2 separate regions of the Homo sapiens genome follow, and region 1 is linked to region 2. The links come from fine-mapping of genetic effects on gene expression. Tissue or cell type: lung. Region 2 holds a variant in brackets; the other region holds the start of a gene. All regions are shown on one strand. Distances are between the middles of the regions.

What was found. PIP is the estimated chance that this variant, and not a neighbour inherited with it, causes the effect.
Region 1: GLIPR1L2 starts here. The variant in region 2 is fine-mapped to the expression of GLIPR1L2 in lung (TOPMed, PIP above 0.99). The same link has a PIP of 0.9 or more in atrial appendage.

What each region holds. Positions count from the first base shown.
Region 1 is chr12:75,386,459-75,394,567 of GRCh38, forward strand. It overlaps GLIPR1L2 (GLIPR1 like 2), which reads left to right and starts at 4,631. Exons shown (of 6, transcript NM_001270396.2): 1 at 4,631-4,892. The coding sequence starts at 4,659. It also overlaps a transcript of CAPS2 not described here. RefSeq lists a silencer at 4,433-4,605 and an enhancer at 4,563-4,692.
Region 2 is chr12:75,297,178-75,305,286 of GRCh38, forward strand. It overlaps CAPS2 (calcyphosine 2), which reads right to left. Exons shown (of 17, transcript NM_001355024.4): 8 at 7,580-7,699; 9 at 2,660-2,734; 10 at 1,694-1,789; 11 at 1,510-1,603. CAPS2-AS1 (CAPS2 antisense RNA 1) reads left to right here. Exons shown (of 4, transcript XR_001749213.2): 4 at 1,023-1,108. Among named protein-coding and RNA genes, the nearest start is that of CAPS2, 29 kb to the right of the region's middle. The variant T/A (reference allele first, on the strand shown) is at 4,970.

The DNA.
Region 1 (8,109 bases), 89 kb after region 2:
TGTGCAAAAGAAGGGAGCTGAACTCACTCTTTTATCAGGAACTCACTCCCTCAATATTTTACCAATCCTGTGATAATGGCATTAATACAATTCATGAGGACAGGGCTCTCATGACCCAATCACCTCTTAAAGATCCCACCCCTCAATGCTGTTGTATTGGGGATTAATTTTCCAGCATATGAATTTAGGGGGACATATTCAAACAATAGCAAAAATACAATAATTTAAAAGGTATAGTATTGGTGAAAGTAGAAATAAATCCATGGAACAGAATAGAGAGCTGAGAAATAGAACAGCATAAATAAAGTCAACTGATCTTTGACAAAGGAGCAAAGGCAATATAATGGAGAAATGTAGTCTTTTCAACAAATGGTTCTGGAACAACTGAACGTCCATATACAAGAAAAAAAAACCAGTCTAAGCACAAACTTTATACCCTTCACAAAAATTAATCAAAATGGATCACAGACCTAAATGTAAATACAAAAGTATAAACTCCCAGAAGGTTATATAAGAGAAAATCTAGATGATCTTTAATTTGGCAATAACCTTTTAGATACAACACAAAAGGTATGATTTATGAAAGAACAAATCGATAAGCTGGGTGCCATTAAAACTAAAAATTTCTACTCAGCAAAAGACATTCTCAAGAGAATGAAAAAACAAGCCATGGCCTGGGAGAAAAATACTTACAGAAGATATATGCAATAAAAACTATTACGCACAATATGCAAAGACTCTTTAAACTCAACAATCGAAAAACAAACAGTTTAATTTAAAAATGGGTCAAAAACCTTAATGGACACCTCACCAAAGAAGACATACAGTACTCAAATAAGCATATGAAAAGGTGCATCATATGTCACCAGGAAAACGCACATTAAAATACCAATGAAATACCACTACACACCTTTTAGAATGGCCAAAATCCAGAACACTGGCAACACCAAATGCTGACAAGGATGTGGAGGAACATGAGCTCTCATTCACTGCTGGTGGGAATGCAAAATGGCACAGCCACTTTGGAACATAGTTTAGCAGTTTCTTAAAAAACTGAACATTATGCTTACTGCCATAGTCTGTTTAATGTTGCTCATAAGAAAATACCTGAAACTGAGTAAGTTATAAAGAAAAGGAATTGACTTCTTAGAATTATGGAGGCTGAGAATTTCAAAGTCAAGGGGCCATATCTGGTGTGGCCCTTCTTGCTACTGGGGACTCTGCAGAATCCCAAGGCAGCACAGAGTATCACATGGTAAAGGGGCTAAACTAATCCATTAACCCATTAATCTACGAATGGATCAATACATTCATGAGGACAGACCCAATCACTTCTTAAAGGCTCCACCTTTCAATACTGTTACATTGGGGATTAAGTTTCAACATGAATTTTGAAAGGGACAAATATCCAAACAATAGCATTTACTATAACATATAGTTATGATCCAGCAATCATGCTCATGGTATTTATCCAAAGGAGTTGAAAACTTATGTCTACACAGAAACCTGCACAAAGATGTTTATAACAACTGTATTCACATTTGCAAATTGATATGGTTTGGCTCTGTGTCCCCACCCAAATCTTACCCTGAATTGTAATAATCCCCACGTGTCATGGGAGAGACTAGGTGAGAGGTAACTGAATCATGGGGGCAGGTTTTTCCCGTGCTGTTCTCATGGTAATGATTATGTCTCATGAGATCTGATGGTTTTATAAAGAGTAGTTCCCCTGCACATGGTCTCTTGGCTGCCACCATGTAAGATGTCCCTTTGCTCCTCCTTCGTCTTCCACTATGATTGCGAGGGCTCCCAGCCATGTGGAACTGTGAGTTCATCAAACCTCTTTCCTTTATAAATTACCCAGTCTTGGGTCTGTCTTTATTAGTGGCATGAGAATAGAATAATACACCAATACCTAGAATCAGCCAACATGTCCTTCAGTAGCTACTGGAATAAAGAAATGTTGGTACATCCAGAAAATGAAAAATTATTCAGTGCTAAAAAGAAATTAGGTATCAAGCCACGAAAAGACATGGAAGAAATTTACACACATATTACTAAGTGAAAGAAGCCAATCTGAAAAGACTACATACTGTATGACTCCAACTATATGACATTCTGGAAAAAGCAAAACTATGAAGACAGTAAAAAAAAATTAGTAGTTGCCGGGGTTAGGAGGCAGGGAGAGATGAATAGTCTGAGCACCAGGGATTTTTAGGCAGCAAAACGACTCTATATGGTACTAAATGCTGGAAACATGTCATTATACATTTATACCAACCCATGAAATGTGCAACACCAAGAATGAGCCCTAATATACACTATGAACTCTGGGTGGGAATAATGGATAAATGTAGGTTCATCAGTTGTAAATGTACTACTCTGTTGTGGGATGTTGATAATGAGGGAGTTTATGTATGTGTGGGGACAGGAGTTACATGAGAAATCTCTGTACCTTCCTCTCAGTTTTGTTGTGAACCTAAAACTGCTATTAAAAAAGAGTCTATTTTTAGAAAAGGAATTGGTAAAAAAAACAAAACAAAACAAAAAAAACACAGAAGTAGCTCTACCACTCCCTGGCTGGGTGGCCTCAGGCAATTTGATTTCTCTTTTTCTCAGTTGTTTTTCCATCTGTTAAAGGGATAATAACTATTTCTTAAGATTTGTGTGACTTGAGTGAGTTGATATTGTCCAAGCATTTTAAATAGTGCCTGACACATTAAATATTTGTGAAATAGATTAAAAATAGTATTCACCACTCTGTATTGTAACTGTTTGATGATTCATCTGTGTCACCTTTAATTAAAAGCTCCCTGTGGATAGACTCCATGTCTAGCTTGTTCAGCATTTGAGCCTTTAGCTGGGCTGTGACACACAGGAAGTACCAAGGAAATATTTATTGAATGAGATGTCTAGCAGTGGAATGGGCTTCCCTGTTGGTCTAATTATTTAAGAAAAGGATGTGATGATCACCTGTCAGTGATGTTCCGGAGAGTATACCTAACACAGGAGGCTAGCAATAGTGGCTAAAATTTCTTCCAAATCTAAGATTGCATTATTCTATTTATACTTTTTCTTTAGCATTTTTTGCAGTCTAACAACAGTACCACCATAATAAAAGAATTGCATCTTTCAGCACTTGCCACCTTCACCCTTAAATAGGTTCTAGCCATACTAAAATACTTCTAGCGTTTAGGATCTTCCTCTCCTTAGGCACATTACATGCTTTTCCCTTTGTTTAGAATGCTATCTTAGACTTGTCTGTTTCACTTTCTGTATACAATTTCCAGAAAGGCTTCCCTGCTCCTCCACAAGAGTACCAAGCAATAGAATTTTGGCTTTGTATTTATCACGTTTTAAATACTGCCTGATTGCTAATTCACTAAATTGTAAGCTGCTTGAAAGCTGGATCTGTGTCTTGTCTACTGATCTTTCTCAATCACTTAAAACTTACTACTATGCAGTCATAGTAGTAAGTATTCAAGGGCATAAATGAAACCATCTTACATAGGTCTATTGTTTTTCAATTGTGTGCATCACAGACAATTTTTAAAAGCACTTTTCTTTTTATAAATGTTTGGCTAACCTGTTACAATGTTTTGTAGTAAAATTCTCTCCCAATGTCAATTTTCCATATCTGCTTAATGCTATTAAGCACAATATGTAATATGCAAACGTGTATTCCAAAACTAATACTTGCTTTTTTTCCATGCTTAGAATTTAAAGTCTTCAAAGCAAGTTGGTTTTGTTTTGTTTTGTTTTTGAGGAAAATGTTTGGAGGTAAACAGATCAGACCAAAATCAGCTAGATATTAGCCAATTTTGTCTGGAACAAAAAAAGAAAACAAAAGAGTTCGTTCTTACTGTGAATGCCACAATTAGTGAAAAAGATGAATCTTGATATTCCGGGCTGTCTGAATTGTGCTGATGAGAGAAGAAGTAGAAATGTTTTAACCTTTGAAGAGTTTGGTGATCCCTACTCTCCCTTCACTCCCATTTATTTTGTGGTTTCCCACAAAGGTTCATTTAAAAACTGAAAAAAATCTCATCAATTAAGTTGGCCTTAAGAACTTCTTTGGCCTTAAGAACTAGCAATATTTCTGTATTCCATTCTGTCCCTGAGGAAAATAAAAGGCAGGCCCTGCACCAAATTTCCAACTCAACAGGTAATGGGGAAAAAAAATTTAATTGAATTTGTATCTGTATCGCAGAAAAATCATTTCACCTGGCACAATTAGAAGGTTCCTCAGACCTGTTACTCAGCAATTGGCATTTACCATACAAACTGATGACTCATTAATAACGACATATCATTCAGTGTCAGAAATCAATTCGGGATAACATTTCACTACATTAGTTTAGTGAAAAGGGCTTACTCACGTAACACAAGTCTTTCTTTAGTTTGTCAGACATCTATTACCAGCTTTCTTCACTCTGCAGGTCTAGCTTTCCCCTCCTCTCCCCCTCCCCTACCCACTCTCCCCTCCCTCTTCTCTCCTCCCTCCTCCTTACCCCCTCCTCCCTCCTTTGTTTTTCCCTCCTCCCTCCTCCCTTTCTCCTTCCGGGAGGCGGGACAAGGCTTGCTTGCGTCCTCCGTAGATTGGCAGGTCACTGGGACGGCCAGCGCGTGCGCACTGGCCTGTCAGCGGCCGGTGGACCATGGAGGCCGCAAGGCCCTTCGCCCGGGAGTGGAGGGCCCAGTCCCTACCCCTGGCAGTAGGGGGCGTTTTGAAGCTGCGGCTCTGTGAGCTGTGGCTACTGCTACTGGGTTCTAGTTTGAACGCCAGATTTTTGCCAGACGAGGAGGACGTAGACTTTATCAACGAGTACGTGAACCTCCACAATGAGCTGCGGGGCGACGTCATTCCCCGAGGGTCTAACTTGCGCTTCATGGTGAGGCCGGAAGGCGGTTTGCCGACCCTTCCACTACCGTTGCCACAACGCCTCCCTGGATCTCGGGTAGTTGGGGCCACTGCTCTGAGGCTGAAGGATCGCGGAGAACCGCACTTTTAGCTTGGTTTTTAAAGTACACGTGAAGTTTACACAGAGAAAAACTGCGGACACTCTAACACATGCTTATTACCATGATATTACACAGGGCCAGGACTAAGGTGATGGAGGCACTGGCCTGAAGTGCAGATTTTAAGGGGGCGCCAATTCAAGAAAATGATATTTTAATGCAACGGGTTTTTAAAAATTAAAAATCAGTGCAAAAATATCAATATCAAGGGTAAAGAAAATGTTAAAAAATTTAACAAAGACAGGTTCCTTGGGTCTGGATTAGGGAAAAACAAGTGCGACACTCTCAGGGTGGTGCAAATCAAGATGAGATTCTGTTTGTATTTGAAATTTTTATTTTTAGCTTTTTCCATCATCGATGTCACATTAGCTTTGCCTTTTAAAAATGTTTGTTATCTTGATTTTTTTTTTTTGTGCCCATTCCAAATTTGGCTCCTAAGGAAGTGTCTCAGTTTCCTCACCCTAGTCTTGACCCTGATTTTGCCTTACCTTACAATGCGGTTCTTGCTTTCCCCCTCTTTTACACCCTATAGTCATTTAACAACTCAACTATTCCCTGGTTGCTATTGAGTTTTCCTGACTGTCATTAAAATGACTGAAAATCCGGCAAATAAATAACTGTCCTCTTAGGGAATTAGAAGCTTCAAACTTATAAATTATATTGCAAGGACTACTTTCCTAGACATGTCTTTTCTTCCTTCAGCATTAGTTCTTAGCACAAATTTCAGAAATGGGATAAATAAATTAAGGGTATGATATTTTTTATTAATTTAACACATAGCAATTGCTATGCTAAAGGGTAGTGCCAAATTTAGCAAATACCAGCTGTTCTGTTTTCACCACATCCTCACTGATTTGGACATGTTCAATTACTTGCTAAATGAATAAATTACAAAAATGGTCATTTGTTTTAATGTTGATTTTAAAATACTATTTTGATAGGACATACTTGAGTTCTTTCTTCGTCATTTCCTTTACCTTTTATATTGTCAGCATTTCCATGTCAGATTATATGCTGTCTTATAGAACTATGCTAGCATTTGGTTCTATCTGCTGAAGATACTTTTTTCTAAGCCAATTCTTTTTCTTTTGAATTCAATTATAGAGTTTGGGGATATTTGGGAGTTTCAACTAATTTCCCATTTTTTGTGACTAATTCTGTTTCTTCCCAATTTGAAGATTATCCTTACTCCTGAAAATTAATAAACACATAATACTTTCTAATACAACTTTTCATAGGTTTTCTATCTCATCTCTAAAAATTATATAGTATTTCAAACATAAGGTATATAAAATAATATACCTGTATACCCACAATCGATATTTTTAAATATAGACATTTTTAAAGGAATAGTATTTGATATATAGGTTAAAGTCCCACCCTAAATTTTTACCTTTTTCTTCTTTCTTGAAGTTAATGTATATTTTTCCCATGTATTTTATTAGGACATAAATATTAACTGTAAATAGTATAGTCTATCATAATAGTATGGCCTATTTAAAATGTTTCTTTAGCAGATTTGGACATCACTCAGCTTATTTAAACTCTTTTATTGGTTATTTTTAGTATTTTAATGTATGTACTTTTTATAAATTCCAAAAGTTAATACCTGTAAACTCCACCCAAATATTAATAAGATCTTAGAACACAAATTCTGAATACTTTCCATCCTTATTCATGCTATTGCCGTGTAGTACTTTTGTTCTACCTTGCTTTTAAATACCAAAAAAATTGTTGTTTTTAAAAAATTGTATTACAATATACAGGACATAACATTTACCATTTTAACCATTTTTAAGTGTATAGTTCAGTGGCATTAAGTACATTTGCATTGTTGTGCACCCATTACCACCACCTATCTCCAAAATTTTTTCGTCTTCCTGAACTGAGACTCCATACCCATCAAATAATTACTTTACTCTCCATCTCCCCTCCTCCCAGGCCTCTATCACCATTCTACTTTCTATTCCTATTAATTTGACTTCTTAAGGTACCAAATATAAGTGGAATCATATAATATTTGTCTTTGTTACTAGCTTATTTCATTTGGTATAATGTCTATAAAGTTCACCCATGTTGTAGCATGTGTCAGAATTACCTGTCTTTTTACAGCTGAATAATATTCTACTGTATGCATATACCACATTTTGTTTATCCATTCATTGGTCAGTGGATATTTAGATTGCTTCCATTATTTGGCTGTTGTGAATAATACTGCTATAGACATGGGTGTACATTTATCTGCTCCAGTTCCTGATTTTGCTGTTTTTGGGTATATACCCAGAACTGGAATTGCTGTATCATATGATAATTCTGTTTAATTTTTCAAAGAACCCCCATTCTGTTTTCCATAGTGGCTGCACCATTTTACATTCCCACCAAGAATGTTCAAGGGTTCAATTTCTCCACATCCTTGATAACACTTGTTATTTTCTGTTTTATTTTCCTTATTCCTCTTTTTTTCTTAATGATAACCATCTAGCAGTTATGAAGTGATACCTCACTGTATTTTTTATCTGCATTTCCCTAATGATTACTGATATTGAGCATCTTTTTATTTGCTTCTTGACCAAGATTTTCTCTTCTTTGAAGAACTATCTATTCAAGTCGTTTGCACATTTTTTGGCCAACTTGTTAGATTTTTTGTTGTTGAATTATAGGAATTTTTATAGATTCTGGATATTAATCTTTTTCAGATATATGATTTGAAAGTATTTTCTCCCGTTTTGTAAGTTGCCTTTGCACTCTATTGATAATATCCTTTGATAAACAAAAGTTTTTAACGTCAATGAAGTATAATTTATCATTTTTTGTTGTTATTGTATGTATTTTTTGTCGTATCCAAGAAGTCATTGCCAAATTCAATATCATGAAGCTTTTCCCCTGTGCTTTTTAAAGGTTTTATAGTTTTAGGTCTTTGAGTTAAGTTTTGTATATTGTGTAAGGTAAGGGTCCAGCTTATTCTTTTGCATGTGGATATCCAGTTTTCCTAACTTCATTTGCTGGAAAGATTGTTATTTTCCCCATAAAATGGTCTTTCCACCCTTGTTAAAAATCGTTTGACCATATATGCTGGCATTTATTTTGGGG
Region 2 (8,109 bases):
TGAGAATAAATCATAAACTACACTAAATTTTTGGAGATATCAGCTCAAACTTTAAACTTGGAATATGCATTAAACATTCTTCTGCAGGTTGTGAAATGGGAGTCGAGCTGATTTTCTCTAGATCTCAAGAGGCAGGCTTGAGTGTCATATGTATAGTGTATAGTGTATTTAAGTATAAGATGTAAAATTTTTCCTCAACCCATACTTCTCCCTTAACTGGCCACCAAATTGTACTGACTCTACCTATCAAAGAATTTTTATTCTTCTAATTAGCTTCATAGCCAGAGTCATTTGCTTATTCAGGTTGCCATAATCTCTCTCCTAGATTAATATAATTCAATCCTATCCTGCCCTTGTGTATCTAGTCTTCAATTCCTTCCCCACATTGTAACCAGACAGATCTTTCAAAATCACAAATCTGATCATGCCACCTTCCCCCATTCCATCCACATCTTCTCTTCCAGTGACTCCCCAATACATGTTAGATAACTCTTTAACATGGGCTGCTTTTAATAAGCTCTGACTCATCTCTTGCCAACCTCCACCTTGAACTCTCCTCCAACCAGACTGAACTACTTCCAGTTCTCCAAATAAGTCATGTGCTCTCTTCCTTTTTGTTCTTAGAACAAGCTGTCTTCTCCACCTGGAAGCTTTTCCCCACCCTAACCTATTCCCTTATCCCAGCCTTGCTAACTCCTAGTCAAGGGTAGATGGCATTTTCTCTAGGAAGCCTCCTTTGATTCCACAAAACTAGGCCATCACCCCTCCTATCTGGCCCACATTGCCCCTCCTATCTGGCCCTCTTATCTATCTGTGTCTCCTATTAGACTGCCAGCTCCAAAAAAGCAGGGAATGAGTCTAACTTACTGTTCCATCTACAGATCTTAGGATAGAAACATATATTACCTGAATGATCACTGTGGATAGTGCTGTATTTTACTCACGATATAAAGTGTAAATATGATTTAAAATTTAAGAGCACTACACAAACTGTAACATTATCTATGCTCCACCCATTCTAGGGAATCCTTGTGACACACCACATGCCGGGAATTTCCCAAAGTGGGAAAATCACAAGGAAGATAGGCTATCCATCAAAAAAATGACAGCTCCAGAGGCCCATACCCCTTCACATGGAGGAAACTGTCCATCCTCGGAGGATAAACCTACTTTGGGTAATATTGAGATAGCCACTCACCCAATGACACAGCTTTGAAGAACTTTTCAAAGTACGAAGATACAACTTCATCTGGAGACAACCCATGTTGTGGAATGGGAAGGGGGGTGTTACAGAAAATAAATGATATGCTTGGATTCAGACTTGAGATTTGGGGCTGGGAAGCAGAAGCTCCTGGCAAAACATCAACCATTAGCCCACACAAATGACCCTGTTCAGGATGCAGGAGAGGAAATAAATTGAAGACTAGAAGCCCTACTCCTCCACCTCCATGGGACTCCACAAAATCCACCATCTGGTATTAAATGTGTGCACACACACACACCACTTACAACATAAAAATCACCAAGTCGGTATTGTTTTCCTTTTCTTCGTCCACACTGATGACTATAAATGCTTTTTTGAATAAAAGGAAGCACATTTGTTCTAGAAAGTAAATGAAAAAAAAATGGAAAGTTATTTAGCTTCTCTCGGAAGTGAACATCTCCAGAGTTCTAACAATGTTTAATGGCATACCTATTTTTCCCAAATTGTCGATATTCATAAATTGTAAGGGATTGGTCATGAGTGAAAAAGAACCCAATGAGCTCTCTGCAAGCATCACGTCCATTACTGGAAAAATAGAATGAAATCAAACATCTTCAAATAGAATAATTTTTAGATGAATTAACTAAAAAACATGTTCATCTCAAGAAGGATAGCTAACTCTCTTATGTATGTGGCAATGAGTGAAGGTTATGGGAAACTGTAGGGAAAACACAAAAACATAGCTTGCTGAAATGTCCACTAAAAGTTAGATTTGAATGCAGAAAAAAATAATCTTACACTGACATTAAAAGTGGATATATTTACGATGTACATTATTAATTCAACATAGACTTTTAAGACAATGTGAATTATCTTTAAAAGTGTTGAGGTTGCAAGAAGGCACCCATAGATACAAATTTATTATCTTTTATTGTCATAGAAAGCTTTAAATTCACTAAACAAATAAAATAATTTAAAATACACATTTTATCAGTAATATACAAAGAACATCAAGTAGAATTATTTATTACTGGAAATCTATAAGACTGAAATAATAGATTTAAAAATTATTTTCCTTGTCACTTACTGCACCTATCAATAATCTGTTAAATCATTAAGATAAAATTAAATAAAGCAGCTTATAAAACATTAGTTTTCAGTTTACAAAACTCTAGTAGTAATATAACTCTAAAAAATTCACTGCTGTTACTTTTTAAAAAATATTTAAATTCGCTTTAAAGATAACTTTTAATTAGAATGTTTTTCCTACAGATTCATATTTCCTATATTTTTATAACAGATTAATAGCTATTATTTTAAAATGTTTGTTCTAAATTCACGTATTTTTATTTAAATGACACAAACCTATATAATCTCATTACTGTCATTTCTATTCAAAAAGAGAATACGTTTTTATAATCATAGGATTAAAAATTTTAATAAAATCACAATTACCGTGATACGATCCTACCATCAAACTGTAATTTATGAGAAAGCACATTTTCAGTTAATGTAGAATGAGTTCTTATCCTGTTAAGAAATACATTTTGTCAGTAATTTTTCAAGATACCTATAACTTGATGGAAATTGTAAATGTACAAAAAAAGTTATGTTAATATTTTGAAACCACACAGATTGGATAACAATAAAGGTAAAAAAAAACTCTTTTTTTCAGATTGCTAATTGTAGCAGACACAAAAGAAATAACTCTGAGATATAGTATATAATACGTGAATGACTTTTATATTAGAATCTATAGCATCAAAGTGCTATAAAAGTAAATACTGAATAGAGATACAACATTTGCGACTGGCACTGTTGCAGGGCTATCTGAATGCCATTTCTAACCCTCTTCTTCTTTGCTTCCCTCACACCATAGAATTTGCTCTTAGCGGCCGGGCGCGGTGGCTCACACCTGTAATCCCAGCACTTAGGGAGGCCGAGGCGGGTGGATCACGAGGTCAGGAGATCGAGACCATCTGGCTAACACGGTGAAACCCCATCTCTACTAAAAATTACAAAAAATTAGCCGGGCGTGGTGGTGGGCGCCCGTAGTCTCAGCTACTCAGGAGGCTGAGGCAGGAGAATGGCGTGAACCCGGGAGGCGGAGCTTGCAGTGAGCCGAGATCGCGCCACTGCACTCCAGCCTGGGCGACAGAGCCAGACTCCGTCTCAAAAAAAAAAAAAAAAAAAAAAAAAAAAAGAATTTGCTCTTAGCATCTTGCAATTAAGGATGAGTAAGGGACCTAGTTCTGCCAGTAAGCTTCCAGGAAAGACTTTCTTTTGTCCTGGTAAGAGAGTGGCATGAGAAGAGTTCCTGCCTGTGAACGTGGCAGGGATGTGATGCTAGGAGCCACTATAGCCACCATGAGATCAATCCACCACATCAGAACGACCAAAAAGATATAGGAAAGCCAGCCTAGAGCGGTAACATCACTAAGCTACTGAACCAAAACCAGTAAATGCCTACCTCCAAGCAGCTAACTATATAAGAAAAATAAATCCTGACTTGTTTAAGCCACTATCAATCGGTTTTCAGTGATGTGTAGCTGAAAACATTCCTTACCAGAATAACTAAAGAGTGGGGAAGAGTGCTGAATGAAGTTCGAACTTTGTCACAGATCAATAGGTTATTTAATCTTTATGGCCTTCAGACAGTACTGAATGATCTCATAAAGGCTGCCAGCCCTAAAATTCTATTTAACAATATAAAGCAAAACCAAAACACCCTACTGCCAATAATCTCCTTTATATTAAGAGATCTGAAGACTAAATGATATATTTCTCCTTTGCTTCACAAATAATTTAATAATATTCCTTCCATAAAACTGCAGGTATAATGAAATGGCAGTAATGTAATTAGTAAGTAAGTGTGTGGGTCACTGGGATCTTGAAAGCTACACCTCTATAAAATCTAGGTATCTACAAAAAGGAAGCAGGGAACAGGAAACGTGAGCCTGCAAACCAAATGAGAGTTTGTAAGCACAGAGTAGAGCCATGGGAGTGTAACCATCTCAATTCAGTTTAATCTGCTGGGATTAATGTGTTTATTGAATGCCCACTATGTGCCTGAAACAATTCTAAATGCTGAGACAATAACAGCAACAGTACAGCTACCACTTATTGAGAATTTCCCAGATACTAGTCATTGTTAAAATCACTTTAATGTGTATTGGTTTATTTAATACTTATAATAACTCTGAGGTGTTATTATTCCCATTTTTCAAATAAATTTTACAGAAACATAGACAGATGAGTAAATTGTCCAGGGCCATATGATTAGTAAATGGCAGAGCTAGAAAAAACTTTGCTCTTAACCATTACATTATATTGCTTTTCAATAGTAAACAGAACTCACTTTAACAGTGACAAATGGAAGTAATAGCTTCAAGGGCCCTATAGTCTTCTTGAAAAGATAAAAGTAAATATGTATTTACATTATAAAATGCAAAGTGCCATGTTGGGTTTTAGATGCCCAATTGCTTTTAGGAACCCAAGTTCTCTACCAATACATAAAGAAGAATCAGAAAGACTGAAGATTAAAGTATGAATTTAGTATTGATAAAGCTACTAGAAACCATGGCTTAGGTATGCAGCAACCACAAGCTACTCCTTACCACTATAATTAAACAGACTAAGCCACTCATTTCCACTGGGGAGGGACCCTCTAAAACAATGCACAGGGCAGAATGTGCTGCTGCCTCCCAAACAAAGGGGAGAGGAAGGGCTGTACTACTCACGCCAATTCCTGCCTCTAAATTTATG[T/A]AGCAGAACTCTCTCCTCCTCTGGGAAAAATAAATGGGGCATAAGAGGAGTGAAAGCTAAAAATTCAATAATTCTAATCGATACCCCCACAGGATTTTTCATGGACCTAGATTAGCTTTAAACAAGCTGTAGGTATTTACTCTAATACAACGCAATACTAATTAAGATAGGATAATACTGACACAGGGAACAGATGATACTGAAGAAAAAGCCTAGAAACCAACCATGCATTTGGCATGCATATAAATATGTCATGTCATAACCATGCATATAACAACTTGACATATGACATATGTGGCATTACAAGTCAGAGGGAAAATGATTTAGTGGTAGGCAGAGATTATTTTTAAGGAATATACAAAGGACATTAACAATACAGGGAAAGAGGAAAACTGGCCTATGTTAAAACTCCTACTTCTAATTTTAGTTTTTGAGACAGATATAATCAAGAGAATGAAAAGGTAACTACAGAGTAGGAAAAGATATGTGCGACAAATATAGTTGAAAAAGGATTCATTTCTAAAACATGTAAATAAGATCCACAAATAAATATTAAGAAGACAGACAACTCAACAGGCTTGAATGGAAATTTTGTATGAAGATATCAAAATGGCCTATATACATATGGAAAAGTACTCAACTACATTAGTCTCCAGTGAAATGCAAATTAAAATCACTAATACACATCCATAAGAAGAACTCAAATAAAAAAAGGCAGACAATACCAAGCTCTGGCAAAGATATGGTGCAACAAGAACACTCATACTGCTACTGGTGGGAGTGTAAATTTCAGCAACCAGTTGGGAAAGCTATTTGGCTGCATCTTTCAAAGCTGAACATATGGATACTAAGTGGTCCAACAATTCTACTTCTAAGTATATACTCAGCAGAAATGAGTACATATGTTTACCAAAAGGCATGAACAAGGAAGTTCATAGCAGCACTATTCACAAAGAGCCAAATATCTATCAACCTCTGAATAGATAGGTTGTGGCATGTGGTATAATGAAATACTATACAACAATGAGAATAAAAAAAGACAACTACAAATAACACCATGGATAAAACTCACAAACCTAATGTTGGGTAAAAGAAGACAAACACATTTCACTATGTATATCAAAATATCATGTTGTACATCTTATATACAATTAAATTAACAAATAAGTGCCATTAGAGAGAAAAAACAAGCTGGACACAGAGTCTAGATTTCTTGTAATTTCATTTACATAAATTTCATAACCAGGCAGTTCTAATCTATGATATTAAGATAGAGAGGTTAACCTGGTATAGCAGGGGAAATGAATAGTAACTGGGAGGCAGCATAAGGGGAGGTTCGGGGTACTGGCAATTGTCTGTTTCTTGATCTGAGCATTTGGTACATGAGTGTTGTTCTGTTTTTGATAATTCCTATGTTGTGCACCTAAAATTTATTCACTGTGAATGTACGTTTTATTTCAATGAAAGTTGACTTTTAAAAAGGACAGTTTAGATGTGTGGTACATAAATGACGACCTCCTCTGGCCCAACATGTCTACATCCTAATCCTTGGAACATGGGAATACATTATATGGTAGAAGGGACATGGCATATGTGATAAATTAAGAACATTAAAATGGAGAGATTATTGGGATTATCTGGGTAGATTCAACGCACTCACACATGTCCTTATTGGAGGAACATAGAGAGAAATGTATCTATAGAAAAAGAGTGCCAGAGTGATGCAGCATAAGACCAGCTATTGAAGACTTTGAAGATGGAGGAAGGGGCCATGAGCCAAGGAATGAAGGCAGCTTCTAGAAGCTGCAAAAGGCAAGAAAATAGCTTCACCCCCACTAAAACCTCTAGAAGGAATGTAGCCCTATCAATCCCTTGATTTTAGGCATCTGAACTCCAGAACAATTAAACAATAAATCTGTGTTTTAGAATACTAAGCTCATGGTAATTGTTACAGCAGCAATAGGAAACTAACACATAATGCTTCCAAATATTTAAATGGATAAAAGCAATGGCTTTCAGAAAATAAGAATGGGACAAAACGATTAAAAAAAGATAAGAAAGTACTAAGAATTACAGTAGTCTGAAAATATAAAAAAGCTACTGTGGGTACTGGTAGATTTTTTTATGTCTACTAAAGCCGAGGTTAGATGTCAGTGAAACTGTTGAAGAATTTAAGTGGACAGCATCAGAGGATTGTAAAAGATCATACCAATTCTAAGGTTGAAAAAGCTACAACGTAAAATGCAAAACAAATCTTATAGTCAACACCAAGTTTTAATATGCCAATGAGATTTAGCCAGTATATATAGCACACGTAAAATTTCTCGGTAACTATATGATACATTTTCACATCCATTATCTCCAAAGGTTGTGGCTTTTTTTCCCCTAAATTACAAATAAAAAATCTGGAGGGCAAAGAGAGTAAAATAAGGTATTGCCCCTAATATCATGAAGTAGCAGAACTGGGAGCTGAACTCAAAAAATTCCACTTTTCTTTATATAGAAAAAAGTGAAACAAACACAAAAGCTCCAGCTAGACACAGAAGTACATTTTAAAAATACTTTTAGAACATAGTGCATCCTCATTTTATGTAATTAAAATCTTCTTACTTTGTTTCATGTAGTGTTCTTTTTCTAAATCGAAGAGGTGTCATCTTTGAATCTGGAAGGATATGATCACTTTCTTTTTGCTCAATGGCTAAATTTTGCTCTGGATCACTGATGACAGCCCTATACAGGAAAATAAAAAGTCCAACAATTAAATATGATCATGCATTACTTTAAAATTCACATATTTATAAGCAGTTCTAAAAGCTCATATACCAAATGCAAATTTACAACACTGTCAGAATATTTTTATTAAATAAATTTATTAAAAAATATTTTCCATAAGAAAGTAAATATTCCTATCTCTTTTTCCAGAAGTATTATCCAAAACGGAACTGAAATTTCGGAGGGAGCTAAGAGCTCCATGTTTTTATTTTACTATTCTTTAAACAAGCAGACACAGTGCTGGTTTCTGATCATGTGGGAGGTGTGTAGGAGAGAACACAGGTAAAGTAAAATAAAAATATAAAGCCATAAATGCCACAACAGAAATTCAATGAACAAACATAGAAGAGAATACCTTAATTCCTAGA